Linked DNA regions of Homo sapiens: region 2 is linked to region 1. Evidence: fine-mapped expression QTL. Tissue or cell type: tibial nerve. Region 1 holds a variant in brackets; the other region holds the start of a gene. All regions are shown on one strand. Distances are between the middles of the regions.

Region 1 (8,099 bases):
GCCTCCTGCCACCACCGCTCCCGCCATCCTCCTTCTAGTCCTCAGCATGCCCAGCAGGTTCCAGTGCTGGGTCTTTGGCCTCAAGGTTCACCCAACACCTGACTCACCCGATTCGGGTCTCTGCCTGGACGTCACCATCATCGAGGCCTCCTAGCCCCTCCAGCACGGCACCATGCCCTATCACCCCATCATGTGGGAGGGGTACACAGAGGTGCGGGCAGGCAGGGGTGCTGGGGTTCTGAACAGGGCCTGGATTCTGGGAAGGGACCTGATGAGGGAGGGCCTGCGGCTGGGCACGGGTGGGCACTGGCTGTCACTCCCTCCGCAGAGGCAGGGGCAGGCACTCCAGGGCTTCGCTGATTGTGTCAGTTAAACTCCGAGGGTTGGGGCTCATGATGGCAGAGCCAGCTGCCTCCCTGGACCAAGGATGCTGCACACCCCTAAGACCTAGCCTCCCCGAGGCCTCTCCCCATGGCTGACTCACTGCAGCCTGGACCCAGTCCCTACCCAGGGGCCCTCCTAGCACCCCCAGCCTCTCTGCCAGCCAACCTTGGACGACTAGGGAGGGAAAAACCACCGCATGCCCACCAGAAGACCACCACGTCTCTGGGCAGACACTCGGGGTACCCTTACCCTATGCCTGAGCCAGCCTCTACCCCCACAGCCACCCCCACCACAGGGACAGAAGGCTCAAGAATGCAGTGGCAGACAGACAGCATTCACCAGTCACCCAAAGTTGAATGAGATGATCCACTTCAGCTATGCTCAGACCTTCTTAGAGAGTGACCATGTCTGATAGGGCCTGTGAAATACAAAATGACTTTTAAATAATTTTTTATTATAAAAAGTATGAGCTGGGTGCTGTGGCTCGTGCCTGTAATCCCAGCACCTTGAGAGGCTGAGGTGGGAGAATTGCTCAAGCCCAGGAGTTCAAGACCAGCCTGGGCAACATAGTGAGACCTACATCTCTACAAAAAATTTAAAAATTAGCTGACTGTGGTGGCATGCACCTGTAGTCCCAGCTACTCGGGAGGCTGAAGTGGGAAGACTGCTTGAGCCCCAGAGGTTAAGGCAACATTGAGCCATGATCACGCCACTGCCACTGCACTCCAGCCTGGGCAACAGTGTGAGACCCTGTCTCAAAAAAATAATTTTAAGTATGGAAGTTCTGAAAAATGTAAAAGAAAAACAGTGTTTCCTGGAGCTGAAACACTGTCAACATCTTGGTCTTCTGCCTGTGTGAACCTGAGAACACATCGATCCATTCTTAATTGTCTCAAACCTTCAAGCAGGGGCTCTAGAACCCATGCAGTGGCAAACATGCACTCGTATGCCCTGGCAGAATCTCCGTTCCCCACGGAGCCCCTCAAATGCACTGATGTGTTCAGCTCATTCTAAAAGCTAGAGATGATGTGAGCAGCATACCACACGGTTTTAGTATATGATAAAACAGCAGCACAGAGCACATGCCACGCCTCTCCACTTTCAAAACCCAAAAAGTAGGGGAACGCACAGGGATTCCTGCCCAGGCCCTCCCTGTCATGCCCCAAGCCCTGCCTCCCTGTGTCCTCTCTCCTCAGCACCGCCCCCCATCTCTCCCAGCCCCTGGCTCTGCCTTTGCTACCTCATCCCAGCCAGTCCTGACCTTGGCCCTGACTGCCTGATCCACCAAGATGGGCTTCATCCAACCCATGGGTCTCCAAGAGCTCCTCACTCTGAACAGCAAAAGGTAATGTTTTTACTCTAAAATCATGATGTGTGCATGGTCACATACAGCCCACCATGTCCGTAGGTGCAGCCCTTCCAATCTAGAAAAAGCTCAGGGGCAGCCAGAGTGCAAGTACACGGAAAAAACCAGAACCCATGCAGAGATCTCTCTCAAAAATAATAACGTGTTTTCAACTAGTGTTGTTAGAAGCTGAAGGCTGTTAGTACAAGGACAGATGTCAGTCAGAATCCTGTTTCAGGCCAGGCATGGTGGCTCACACCTGTAATCCCAGAATTTTGGACGGCCAAGGCGGGAGGATTGTTTGAGTCCAGGAGCTCGAGACCAGCCTGTACAACACAGTGAGACCTCATCTCTATAAAAAAAAACAAAAATTAGCTGGATGTAATAATGCACACCTGTAGTCCCAGCCACTAGGGAGGCTGAGGTGGGAGGATCACTTGAGCCCAGGCAGGTTGAGGCTGCAGTGAGCTGAGACTGCGCCACTGCACTCCAGCCTGGGCGACAGAGTGAGACCCTGTTTCAAAAGAAGAAAAGAAGAAGAAGGAGAAGGAGAAGGAGGAGGAGGGGGAAAATTGGTTTTTAAGCAAGTATTTGTGTGCTCATATAGAAAAATGCCCACATATCTATGAAAGAAACCTAAACTTTTAAATTGAACTCATATAAACCCCAACATCAGACGCTGTGGCTCCTGCCTCATCTCCCCACCTTTGGGCAGAAACTTGATGTTCTTTCTAGAAAGTTCTTAGGACATATCTTTGTACCCAGCCCCACATGCCACATTCGGCTCCTCCTCGGTGGGTTTGTGGCTCAGCAGCATGTGATGACCATGTCCCCTGTTGGCACCTGGTGCCCGTGGATAAGGACAGAGCCCAGTCCTCCTGTGGAAGACCCTGAGGTTCCAGACAGAATCCTCCTAAGTCCTTGTCTTTCTCTACTGCTTATGAAAGTGTAAACTCAGATGATATGAACAGCAGTTCAGACCTCCAGTACAAAGCTCTGAAAGTGCCGTGGCCTTTCCCAGGCACTGGCCCCTGGGCTCACGTCCCCTTCCCTCCCTGCTGCTGTGGCAAAATGCGGAGCCACCGTGGCTTTTCCAAGAAAGCTTTTCCCCGCAGCCTCGGGGAAGGTGGCTTTCTCTTCTTATCCTCAAGCCCTCTTTTTACAGGAAAATGTTATAATTAAGTCATTCCAACTGATTTTAAGCAACTTTGCATCAGTAGGGGGTTAAGTTCTAACAAGGCCCAAATCACCCAGGGTCAATCAGCCGGGCCAGCATCGAAGGAGGCCCCGGTACCTCCCCAAGGGTTCTGCCGGGCTCTTCCCCCTGCTGGACAGCAGTGGCTCACACTGTGACCCCCAGATAAAGTCACGACTTGGTGACCAAACTGAATGAATCCACACCCAGCCAGGTGCTGGCTCATGCCCACTGACAAGAATGAGCAGCGGCTGAGCTCACTGCATTTGCTTGTGCTAAAGGACGGTGTGAGGAGGTAGCT[T/C]GCCCCACACACTAACCCCTCAACTCCTCCATGGACCAGGAGGAGAGGAAACGACGTGGCGCCTGCCCTGGGGGCGGGACACAGGACTGTGCCGCCCCCACCTCTTATCACAGGCTGAGAAAGCACCGCCCCACACACAAGGGGCATCCCACTGACAGCCTCCACCCCTCCCTTCTAACCCTACCATGTGGGGCGATTGGAGCCCCAGATTTCAGAGTTCACCATGAATGTGCAAGATCTCATAGTTTTCATATTGATTATATGTTAAAACAATATTCTGGTCAAATAATTTTTTTTTTTTTGAGATGGAGTTTCGCTCTTTTTGCCCAGGCTGGAGTGCAATGGCACAATCTTGGCTCACTGCAACCTCTGCCTCCTGGGTTCAAGTGATTCTCCTGCCTCAGCCTCCCAAGTAGCTGTGATTACAGGCGCCTGCCACCACGCCTGGCTAATTTTTTGTATTTTTAGTAGAGACGAGGTTTCACCATGTTGGCCAGGATGGTCTCAATCTCTTGACTTCGTGATCCGCCCGCCTCGGCCTCCCAAAGTGCTGGGATTACAGGCATGAGCCACCGTGCCTGGCCCCAAATAAAATATTATTAAAATTAATTTCACCTGTTTCTTTTACTTTTTTTTTTTAATGTGGCTACTAGAAAATTTCAAATTGGCCAGGCACAGTGGCTCAGACTTATAATCCCAGCACTTTGGGTGGCTGAGGTGGGAGGATCATTTGAGCCCAGGAGTTTGAGACCAGCCTGGGCAACATAGTGAGACCCTATCTCTAAAAAAAAAAAAAAAAAAAAAAAAAAAGTTTTTAAATTCGCCAGATGTATTAGTCCATTCTCACACTGTTATGAAGAAATACCTGAGACTGGGTAATTTGCAAAGGAAGGGGGTTTAACTGACTCACAGTTCTGCATGGCTGGGGAGGCCTCAGGGAACTTACAACCATGCAGAAGGTACCTCTTCACAGGGCAGCAGGAGAGAGAGTGAGTGCCAGCAGGGGAAATGCCAGACGCTTATAAAACCATCAGATCTCCTGAGAATTCACTCACTGTCATGAGACGAGCATGGGGGGAACTGCCCCCTTGATTCAATTACGTCCCATCAAGTCCCTCCCACGACATGTGGGGATTATGGGATTACAATTCAAGATGAGATTTGGGTGGGGACACAAAGCCAAACCATATCACTGGGTATGGTGACATGACCCTATGGTCCCAGCTACTTGGGAGGCTAAGATGGAAGAATTCCTTGAGCCCAGGAGGTTTAGGCTGCAGTGAGCCAAGATTGCACCACTGTACACCAGCCCAGGCAACAGAGCGAGACCCTGTCTCAAAAAAAATAAATAAATAAAATAAAAGTGTATACGTGTTGCTTGCACCCAAAGCTCTCACATCCTATTTCTATTGGACAGCACTGGTCTAAGACTTTACTTTTTTTTTTTTTCTGAGACGGAGTCTCGCTCTGTCACCCAGGCTGGAGTGCAGTGGCGCGATCTTGGCTCACTGCAAGCTCCACCTCCCGGGTTCACGCCATTCTCCTGCCTCAGCCTCCCGAGTAGCTGGGATTACAGGCGCCCGCTACCACGCCCAGCTAATTTTTTGTATTTTTAGTACAGACAGGGTTTTGCCGTGTTAGCCAGGATGGTCTCGATCTCCTGACCTTGTGATCCGCCCGCCTCGGCCTCCCAAAGTGCTGGAATTACAGGCGTTGAGCCACTGCGCCCGGCCTAGGGCTTTACTTTTATCTCTATTTTAGGACACACATAATTTCTTAAACAATTATGAGCTAAACTCGCTGACATTTTATCAGTTTCCACCCTTGCAGCTGTTTCTTTTATCCCATCATCTTTCCTCCGAGTTCCCTTTTCTTGCTGATGTACATCTTATAATAGGAAATGTTACAACGAGCATCTGTAAATGGTTAAAAATGTTTGCCTGAAAAATGTCTTCATCTTGCCTTCTGCCCCTTCACTAGCAGTTCATTTGGGTCTAAAATTCGGGGCTGCCAGTCGCCTTCCCGCCGCACTGTGGGCTCATTCTCTATCTTGCGGCACTTGGGGTTGCTGAGAAGAAACCTGCGGGGCTTTTTCCATTTCTCGTAGTTACTCTGTCTTTTCTGTTAATTCTAAAGATTCTCTTCATCTTTGACATTCTGCAGCTTTACCACAATACATCTCAGTGTGGATTTACTCCCAGGTATTTCTGAACGATGTGAATATGTTCTCAGAACGGTGTTGTCAATTGACTTCATTATTGTGCAAACATCAGAGAATGGACTTCCACAAGCCTAGATGACCCCGCCTCCGACAGACCTAGGCTACATGGTAGAGCCTGTTGCTCCTGGGCCACAAACCTGCACAGCACGTTACTGTGCTGAACAGTATACTGTAGACAACTGTAACACAATGGGAAGTATTCGTGTACCTAAACAGAATAGGTACAGTCAAATACGGTTATCCTAACAGGCTGGGCGCGGTGGCTCACGCCTGTAATCCCAGCACTTTGGGAGGCTGAAGCGGGCGGATCATTTGAGGTCAGGAGTTCGAGACCAGCCTGGCCAACATGGTGAAAACCCCATCTCTACTAAAAATGCAAAAATTAACCAGGCACGGTAGTGCACGCCTGCAGTCCCAGCTGCCGGGGAGGCTGAGGCGTAAGAATTGCTTGAACCCGGGAGGCGGAAGTTGCAGGGAACTGAGATCACACTACCACACTCCAACCTGGGTGACGGAGCAAGACCCTGTCTCAAAAAAATAAAAAAATATCGTTATCATAACTTATGGGACCACCATTGTATATGTGGCCTGTCACATGGCCCATGACTGCACATTTCTTTATCCTACTTGGAACTCCTTTTATCTCAGAACTCATGTCTTTCTTCAATACTGGGAAATTCAGCTACCATTTCTTCAAATACAGCTTTTCCATCATTCTTTCCTCTCCACTCTCTCCCTGGGACTCCTATGAGACACTTTTTGGAACTTCTCCACTGAACTTTGATGCTTTTTCCTTCTTTCTTAGGGAAGCTGCCCGACTCCCGGCTGGGGCTGGTCCTCCTGTGGACTGTGAGGCAGCACCCTGTCATTTCCTCTGTACTGCTTTCCTGGATTGAGACTAGGTATTGATCCACCCCTGCTCCATCCACCCACCCAACCACGAATTTTGGAGCCAGCCAAAACGACTACTTGTTTTTGTTTCAGACCCGATACCCAGCCTTTCATTCTCCCAGGGCCTGCCACAGATCTTGATTATTCCCAAAGAAAGAAGAGGCAAACTGAAGCCAAATCAGAATCAAGGTCCACCTGCCCCTTCCCAAACCACCTTAGACTCCCACAAGGGTGGAAGCTGGTGCCAGAGGCTCTGAGCAGAGGGCTCTTCCTCTATGGGGTACATCTGCACCTGGATGTTTCTGGGCTCCAGGCATCCTGGTGAGCCACTGGGAAGGTGTCCAGAACTCCAGGGGCCTGGCTGTCTCATGACAGCAGGGGGTAGACGGGGGCTGGTCACATGGACAGACAGCATCTGAGAGTGGCCAAGCCCCCCAGTCTGCACCATGCTGGCAGCAGAACCCGTGCCAGAGAGCAAGGAGGTGTGGGCATTGGGGGGACCGCTCCAGGGAGAGACAGAGCCCTCAACAATCAAAGAAAGCAATGGGAGGGACTTACAGTTTCCTCATCTACCAAGAAAAGGAAATCTCAGAATCCCATCTTCTGTCAGACCCGGGAGCAGGTGGGCAGTGCAAGGATTCTCGGCCCTCCCAGGCCAGGAGCTGTCCCCCTATGCCAGGACCTCAAATTTAAAGCTCTCTCCTCTTAACAGAATCAGGAAAAACCAAGCTGACAGCTAAAATGTTCGGCTGAAGTTCACAAGAATGTAGAGGCTCAGATTGTCAGCACATTATAATCATTGACATTTAGCAACAAAATTGGCCCATCACTCCTGGACGACAAATCGCCCCCATCTGACTGCCCCTCCTTAATAAATAGGGCAGGACTCCTCCTGTGCAGAGATGGCACGCGCACCTCTGCCAACTCGAATTCACATTGCCACCCCACCTCCCTCCTGTAATTTTATCCTCATGGGATACATTTCTATGCTTCAAAGTCCTTACTGATCATCTATCAAATTTTTCTACAACATATATATCAATATTACATATTTATAAATCTATAAATGGGATTTAAATTTTTAAATTTTCACACTTTTTTTTTTGAGACAGAGTCTTTCTCTGTCACCCAGGCTGGAGTGCAGTCGCACAATCTCAGCTCACTGCGGCTTCCATCTCCCGGGTTCAAGCAATTCTTGTGCCTCAGCCTCCCAAGTATCTGGGATTACAGCCATGAGCCACAGTACCCAGCTAATTTTTGCATTTTTAGTAGAGATGGGGTTTTGCCATGTTGCCCAGGCTGGTCAAATTTTTAAATTTTCTGTGAGGCACTGAGTGTTAGCATTTTCTCTGCACTGAGTCGACAATGTAGACACTGCAATTACTTTTGCAACAACCTAATAGTATTAGTATACAATCGATCAAACAACATAAACATGTGACACATCTTGGTACACCATCATTTCACAGAAAGGTGTCTCATAGAAATGTAGTTCTTGATGGGGTGGATGCATCCGGGGTTTTCTGACTAGCTGTTGTCTCTTTGGGTAACTCACTAGTTGCCAAAGTAGGCTGGCCTCAGCTGCAATGCTGTTCCTGCGTTTTGACTTAGGTAAGTGCCAAGAAACCTGCTCTCATGGCTGAGTTAGCAGGAGCGGGGAGAGCAATAGAGGAACTTCCTGCCACTCCAAGAACAACTGCCGAGTTATCGGCTAAGAATCATTGCTTCATGACCAAAAGTCATTCTTAACGCCCTGTCAGCT
Region 2 (8,099 bases), 41 kb after region 1:
AGCTGAAAACGAATTCATCAGTAGCCTGGCTAGAAGTTATCACTCAAATCCCAAGTCCCTGGAACAGGGTCTGTGCTTGGCATGGGGCATGGACGCAGTGCTGTAGGGACAGCCATTCGTTTCCCAGGTGACGCAAAGCAGGGAAGTCAAGGCACATGCCAGTGACTGCCCTCTCATAGGCCCCACTCGTGCCAGGCCCCAGTGTCCACCAAGACCCCTCCCACAGCCTTCCAAGCCCCAGCTGTATACTTCTGGGGGATCTCTGTCATCGCCCCTCACCCTCAGCCACCAGTGGGGAGCCCCAAAAGGAGGACTGGGCTGCGCCTCATCTCTGCACTTCGGGACCAAACAGATATATCCAGACCTTGCCCCACCCCCCACTCTGGGGCCCGCCCCCATCTGCCACTTCGTTTCCAGGGTGCCGCCCCTCTCAACCAGGTGGCCAAGGTACAGAGTGCTGGCCACCAATGGGCAGCTCTCTTCAAGGGCCCATGACCAAGTGGGCTGGAACCCCGAAAACCCTCAGGTGACTGAGGCTGGGTTAACAAGAGCCGAAGGGCAGGAAGTCCCATACTCAGTACTGCTCAGTCCTGGCAGGTTCCCACAAAACATGCCAGTGGGGTTGGCACCCAGGCAGACTTTACCAAACCCAAAGGGGTCTTCTTTCATAAAGCACACACACCCAGCAAGTCACTCAGGCTTCTCTTGGCAAAGGCCATGTCATCGCTAATCTGGGCCTGGAATGTTTACAGGAAGTTGCCAAATACACATCACTCAGTAAGGCAGATTTATAAGGAATGTTCTCCTACAAAGCGGGGGGACAAGAAAGGTTAATAGCCCCCACTCTGAAAACGGTCTGGGGGTGCAGACAAGCGAGCTCTTCTCGGAGTGCAAGGTTGAGCATGGTAACCAGCCACATGGGAACTACCCCATCCACCCAGCCAGCATAACCCACTGAGGGTCAATTCCTCCTCAAAGATGGAAAACACAAATTCATCCTGAGTGATATTAATATGCTCTTTGGTGATGGCCAGGAAATCTCTCCCAGGTCCAGGTAAGTGTCCAGGTCCCTCTCCCCCATGCCGGGAATTCTCACCTCCTAGTGACCAGGAACTTCCAGCCAGGTCAATCAATAGAAAGTCATAACCAAGCAAGAAACACAGCACTGAGACTTTTGTTTCAGATGAAGACACCAACCATGCCAAAATGGTTTGCCTTTCTAAAGCATAAACTCTCTTGAAAAGACTTTAAAGAAAGGCAAGAAAGTATTTCACCAACATCAATAAAGCAGGACAAGCTGACAGGTTTTCCTGCACCGTCTCTTCCTGGGAGTGTTCAAAGTCAGGATAATACTTACAAGATCTGAACACTTTATACCAAGAAAAATCATATTGGTGTTTAAAAGACTGATTAAGAAAGTGAATAGAAATATAATTTGCAAATGTCATTTTAATGTTAAACTTTTGTATTATTCATCAGGCATTCTTTTACTCAACTTAGGTAGCTAACGTAGTAGCTAATTTTTATTCAGATATCAAAATGTATGTCACACAGGAATATTTTTCAGCATTTCCAATTGCTTTTTATAACTATAAGAACAGTGAATAATATTTTCATTTCAGAATATTTTCCACCATATTGTGATGAACAAGAAGCTCAGTGCTGGCCAAGCACAGTGGCTCACACCTGTAATCCCAGTGCTTCGGGAGGCTGAGGCAGGAGGATTGCTTGAGGCCAGGAATTTGAGTCCAGCCGGGGCAACATAGTGAGACCCTGTCTCTACACACACACACACACACACACACACACTTAAAAATTTATAAAAAGAAGCTCGCTGTGCAGTTTTAAACCAAAGCAGGAATTCAATTAAAAATTCAGTTTGAATTGTACATCTATCTAAATACAAAGTGGGAAAAAAATTCCTGACTGCAGGCAACAGTCTCCCCCAGACACATCCTCCCACAGCTAATGTTTAACACTTCAACTCTTCCAGGCCCAGAATCTTCCCAGGACTGACTTTGTGCTTATTTGTGCCAAAATGTGTTAAATTAGACAGGAAGGGGAAGCATAAAATTCAATTCATAATCCAAGGCAAGAATCTGAGCTTTGGTTTGAAAAATGAAAAGCTATGGAGTGACATAACATACTCCGACCCTTCAAACAATCAAGATATTTAACTCCAAAGACATTTCTCAAATAAGAGACAGCCCAAGTTCAGACTGCCCACAGGGCACCAGCTCCCAGAAAAATGCTATGGCCAGAGACAGATCTGAAATGGAGATACGTCTCAAGTCCAGAGCTCTGGAGCTACTACCAGACAGCATGCCAGGAGAAGACAACGAGAAAAAGGAGAGATCCACATCAATCCTGTTCCATCCCTTCTCCGGAGGCACACAGCTCTGGGCTGATCCCTGGGATCAGCTGATTCACTGGCTGTGCCCTCTTGGTGCCCGCCGCCTGCCTGGAAAGGCAGCTGCCTGCTGAAGAGGAAAAGTTGGGAACGCAATTCCTAATTCTCAGGACAACGTCTAGTACCATGTTCTACCTTTAACCTGTCTTCCCTAAACGGAAACAGACAAGGCCATCCTGAAATTACTCAGCTACTCATGAAACAGAGTCTACAATTATTTTTCCTTCCTTTTCAACACGATTAGAAGGGTGATCCCCCAAATGCGGCCTCTTCCACAGCCACGTCCGGAGGGGCATCCCCTAGTGTCCCAGCAAGTGCCTTCAGCGACACCAGAATGTTAGTTAAGACCTAAGACACATTTCTCCAGCTGCCTCCCGCCATTTGTCACAGAAAATAATGCTGCTGCACGCCCCCAAAACGCCGTTTTACAAGCAGACTTGGTTTTCAGTAACTGGTGAGGAAAAGTCACTGGAACCAAACACCATTCATACAGCTATCCAGAGCGGAGGCCACCGCCCTACCCCGGCAGAGGCACATGGGGGCAGCAGGCAGGACCGAGAGGGGCTCGAAGGCGCCGCAGGAGGAGAGGCTGGGCGCAGACGGCTCGGCCCCAAACCACACCCAGCGCCAGGAAACGCAAGGCTCGGGACGAACCCTTAAGAAGTCGCTGCTAGGGACAGGGAGGTTGGGAGCAGGGAGTGACGCCACAGGAACCCTGAATCCCCCCGAGTCCCCTCCCAATCAAGCCAAGGCCGAGCAAGGGGCGCCCCATGTACCGTAAGCCCTCAACCCAACACTCCGGCAACGACAAACAGAATTCCCCGACCTCAAAGGCCGTGAAGCACGCGCCCTTCGGGGCCCTGAGTGAGCCCTCAAACCTCCGTGCCGATCTTCCAAACCCACCTCCCGCCTTCCTGGAATGGGCGCACGCGAGGCACGGATTTCAGGAAACCTCTGCCGTGACAGCTCACCCACGGTGGAGGCGGAGGCCTGGGACGCTGGACGGAGAAAGGCGGCCAGTGGAGGGAGGAGGGGTAGGTCGGCAACGCGGTGGCCTCGGACGTCCGAGCTGCCCGGACGAAGCGCTGGCCCCACTCCCGCCCTTGGTCGCCGCGGTGACCCCACCCGAGCCGTGACCTCCCCCAAGATCTCAGGGCCCGGGCCTCCCCGCTGCGCCGGCCCCAGGGTGCCACCCTCGGACGCCCAGATGCGCCCTGGACCCTGCGCCGGGATCCTGAACACCGCCGCGCCTTCATCCCGCGCCGAGCGCGCCCGGCCCTGCTCCGGCTGCAGCGGGCACGAGCCCCAGGCGGGCGGCGGGGACGCAGCGCCCGCAGTGCGACTGGCGCAGCCGCTGAGGCACGGGGCGCGCCGCCCGGACCCCGACCCCGCGGCGCTAGGAGAGGCGCGGGCGCCGGCTGGAGAGCCGCACCTCCCGCCCCGCCGAGGCTGCTGGCCACGGGCGCGCTCGCCCCAAGGGCCGGGCGGAGGACCTGTCCCGGATTCCAGAGGACGTGGGTGGGGAAGGGACAAGGATAGGGACAAGGGAGGGGACGCGAACTGGGCCGAGGTGTGGGTCAGTCCTGGTTCGGGAAGGGAGGCCGTTGGCAGGGCCATCAGGATCCTCTCTGGACATGGAAGGACGGGTCTGCCCTGGACCCAGGGATTGGGAAATGTGGGTTCTCTCAGAACCTGGGGAAGTGGGGAGAGGGTCTGTTCTGGAGTGCGGAGGGAGATCTATTCCGGGCCCAGGACAATGGGGGTGGGGGCAGGACGGGAATGAGGGGGCATTCCTGGTGCAGGGAGGGGAGACGGAGAAGTAGTAGGGGGTCTGCTCCGGGCCCGCGGGCTGGGGACCACGAAGTGTAGGAGGGCACCGTCCAGGACCGGGATGAGGAGGGAGAGGGGCCCGTTGTGGCCCTGGATAGAGGGGGAGGGAAAGTGCGCCCCGGCCCGAGAGGAGGAGCAGGAGGGTCAGTCCTGGACCCGGGCTTAGGAAGCCGGGAGGGAGGTTCGGATCCGCCTCAGAGACAGGGCGATGAAGATCTGTCCAAGTCTTGGAGTGGAGGGAAGGATGTCGGCGGTGGGGGAAGAGGCCGGCCACGGACAGGGAAAGGGAGTCCGTCTTGTAGGGCGGACGGGCGGTCCTGGGGAAGGGAGAGGCCGCGACGCGGGGGGCGTCCGGCCCGAGCGGGGCCGCTCACCTTGGGTTTGTAGAGCCACTTTCGGAACCTGTTCATCATCGCCGCGCCGGCCCTGGCCGGACTCCGGGCGGCCCTCGCCCTCCGCAGCGCTGCGCCCGGGCCCGGCTGAGGCGCGGGGCGGACGCGGAGGCACGGCCGGAGCCCCCGCGCTGTCGCAGGGAGGCTGGCTAGCGAAGCCCGGAGCGCCGAGCGGGCGGCGGGCAGGTGCGCGGGGCAGGTGCGCGGCCCTGAGTATGCTCTGCAAGCGGCGCGCCGGGCAGACCTCAGACCCGGGAGTGGGCGCTCGGGCGCACGGACAGACGCGGGCACGGGGGCGCGCGGCTCCTCGCTGCTCACTGACACCCAGCGCTCCGCTGGTCACGGCCGCCCCGCGCCGCACATGCGCCTAGGGCGCCGCGAGCCCCGGGCCCACCGCGCGCTGCGGGCGGGGCGGGCGGGGCGGAGGCGGCCCAATCCCTGCGCGGGCGCCGCACCCCGCCCGAGGCGCGCTCCCTGCCGGCGGGGCGACCCGCCGCGCCCGGGTATCCAAGAAACTACAAGTCCCGAAAGGCATGGCGGGGAGGTGGCGCCCAGGGCTTGGCGTCCCGGGCCGCGCCGCGGCGCTGTGTATTGTGGGAGTTGTAGTCCACCCGATGGCGGCGGAGCGTGCCGCCGGTTGCTAGGTGACGACGCCAAACAGCCGCGGCGTCCTGCCTACCGGGAGCTGACGGACGACGACTGCCAACACCTTAGCCCCAGCTGGCCCAGGAAACTGCTGCGGTGGCAGGTGGCGGCGGCAGGAGGGCTCGGCTGCCCCGAGCGCCCGCCAGGTACGGGGGCGGGACAGGTGCGGGGCGACGCGCCGCCGATTTTCATGACCTGCCGGCCGGTTCCCTCTCGCTCGCTGCTCATCTTGCTTCTCCCAAACACCTCTTCTGTCTTCTTCCCAGCTCCCCGATGAAAGTGAACGGTGCCTCTTTTTTTTTTTTTAAATCACCACTATCAGCGGTGCGTTCTAAAAAGATACTCTTCCGCCCTCGCTACTCCCCCCAGTGGTGCCCTAATTTGTACCTTAAAACGCTCACCTCAATCTGAGTACCTGCTATGTGTCAAGCAGAGAGCTAAAAACCCACACGTGGCCTCACTTAAACTTCCCATTGACAGCCAGAGAAGCAGGCACAACGAGGCCGGCGTGCCCTGGCTGTGGGGGTTGCATCCAGATCACGGCGGATCTGGGTCGGCCTGACCCCACAGCGCTGCACTTTTCCCTGCCGCACCACCACCACGTCTCTGGCTTGTTGTGAAACGTGCAGATGTAAGACACAGGAGATGGAAGTCATGCCCCCCTCGGTTCAGAATTGAGAAGTCTGACCTGTTCCTGCTTGTCCTCACTGGCCAGTGCCAGGTGCTCAGAAAGGTCCGTGGGCTCCATGACCACTTTATTCCAACAGACGCGATGTGAGCCTAGGCGCGCTGGCATCTAAGATTTCTCTTAGTTGGGGGTAGGGTCCATGTTTATTTTTGAGTAACTGATTGATTTTCCCTACTCTCCTCTTCCTACCACCCAGTCGACCCTCTGAAGGGCAAAACCCCTCTGGAGTTTCCCCTTATCTCCAATTCCTTCCCACTTGTTCTTTCTGGAAACTACTCCCATCAGATTTTCACCCAACCACTCCTCTGAAGCTCTTTATCAAAGTCATCCTTGACCTTGATGTTGCAAAATCCGATGATCGGGGTCAGCGCTCATCTCTTCCTTGAACTGTCACTACCACGTGACCCAGCCGACTGTGCCCTCTCCGTGACACAGCATCCTCACTTGGCTGAAACAGATCCCACTGTCCACTTCTCCTCCTCGCTCCTGGCCACTCCTGCTTGATCTCCTTGGCTGGATGCCTCCCCTGCTCACCGACCTCTCAACACTGGAGACCCTGGACTCAGTCCTTGGAACCTACTCTATCCACTCCCTCCCTGGGGGATTTCCTACAGTTACATGGTTTTATAAACAACCATTTTCTCCCAAACTTCTCAAAACCTATATCTCTAGCCTCAACCCTGAAACTCCAGACCTGTTTACCTGTTCTTCACCATTTGGACGCCTAACAGATCCTCTCAAATTTAACGTGTCCCAAACCACACTCTCAGTCTTCCCCCATAAAACCTGCTGCTCCCAAAGCCATCATTTCTTCAGCACAGGATCTTGGGGTAGACACTTGATGGGCTTGTCCACTGAGTGAATGGCTGTTCTCTGTGGGTCTATCCTTGGCCAACTCCAAGGCCTGGAGCAGTTGTATCTGCTCAGAGGCTCCCTTCCTGTGTTTTATAGTTTGAAATTGTGCATGGGATGAAGGCTGAACTTGGGGAAGTGGGGTATCAGTTAGGTTTAGCTGCATGTATTGAAAAATCCCAACATCACAGTGGCCTAAACAAGAATATTACTCATATTTTTATAAAAGAGGTCCATGGAGAGGCAATCGTGGTTGGTATGGCAGCCCTAAAGTCCTCAAGGATCAGCTTTTCTATCTGCCATTCACGTTTCTTCATGATCCAGGATGGCTGCCCACATTCCTGCCATCACCTCCTCGGCCCAGGAACCAGCTGCAAAAGAGAAGATGGATATGCCTCTCTCGTTCAGGGAGACTTTCCAGAAGTCTCACACCTTTCCACTTCTTGAAGGTGGTGGGAGAACTTAGCCACACAACCATGCCCCAGCTGCCAGGGAGGCTGGGAAATGCCATCTTTCAATTGGGCAGCAGTAGACCCAGCTAAAAATCAGAGTTTTCTTATTTGGGAGGAAAGGGGTAGTGGAGATTGAAAAGCAACTAGCAAAAGCTGCCACGTGGGGTTGTGCTTTAAGCACAAGCCATAGGGGCATGACTTGGTAGCAACCCTTAGGAGACTGGCTTTAATCGGGAGAAAAGACTATATTTTAATTAACATACATTTGAGATCTTAGGTAAATGAGTTATCTCCTAGTGGTTGAGAGTGTTGAGCTGTTTTGTGTCTGATGGAATTTAAACCTCCTCATATAATCTCATTTGTGTCTATAAAATATTTCCTAAGGAAAGAGAAGCTTTAGTCTGCCCACCCTTTTTTTTTTTTTTTTTTTTTTGAGATGGCGTCTCGCTCTGTCGCCCAGGCTGGAGTGCAGAGGCACGATCTCAGCTCACTGCGACCTCTGCCTCCCGGGTTCAAGCAATTCTCTGCCTCAGCCTCCCAAGTAGCTGGTATTACAGGCACCTGCCACCACGCCTGGCTAATTTTTGTATTTTTAGTAGAGATGGGTTTTCACCATGTTGACTGGTCTGGAACTCCTGATCTCAAGTGATCTGCCCGCCTTGGCTTCCCAAAGTGCTGGGATTACAGGCATGAGCCACCGCGCCCAGCCTAGTCCAGCCCACCTTTAAAGTTGCCTTAAATATAAGATAGTCAAGTCCTGATCAATGGAGTTAAAATCAATATGAGAAAAAAATCTTTAAACTTGAGAATTAAATCCCACTTCCCACATA

The links. PIP is the estimated chance that this variant, and not a neighbour inherited with it, causes the effect.
Region 2: it holds the start of ZFYVE28, and the variant in region 1 is fine-mapped to the expression of ZFYVE28 in tibial nerve (GTEx, PIP above 0.99). The same link has a PIP of 0.9 or more in esophagus muscle and whole blood.

The regions. Positions count from the first base shown.
Region 1 is chr4:2,372,364-2,380,462 of GRCh38, forward strand. All of the region lies in intron 1 of ZFYVE28 (zinc finger FYVE-type containing 28), which reads right to left. LOC107986249 (a long non-coding RNA gene) reads right to left here and starts at 2,081. Exons shown (of 2, transcript XR_001741550.2): 1 at 1,989-2,081; 2 at 1-802. The variant T/C (reference allele first, on the strand shown) is at 3,226.
Region 2 is chr4:2,413,671-2,421,769 of GRCh38, forward strand. It overlaps ZFYVE28 (zinc finger FYVE-type containing 28), which reads right to left and starts at 4,975. Exons shown (of 13, transcript NM_020972.3): 1 at 4,615-4,975. The coding sequence starts at 4,653. It overlaps CFAP99 (cilia and flagella associated protein 99), which reads left to right and starts at 5,285. Exons shown (of 16, transcript NM_001193282.4): 1 at 5,285-5,423. RefSeq lists enhancers at 1-142, 2,577-3,135, 3,136-3,694 and silencers at 4,700-4,859, 4,980-5,209, 5,450-5,499.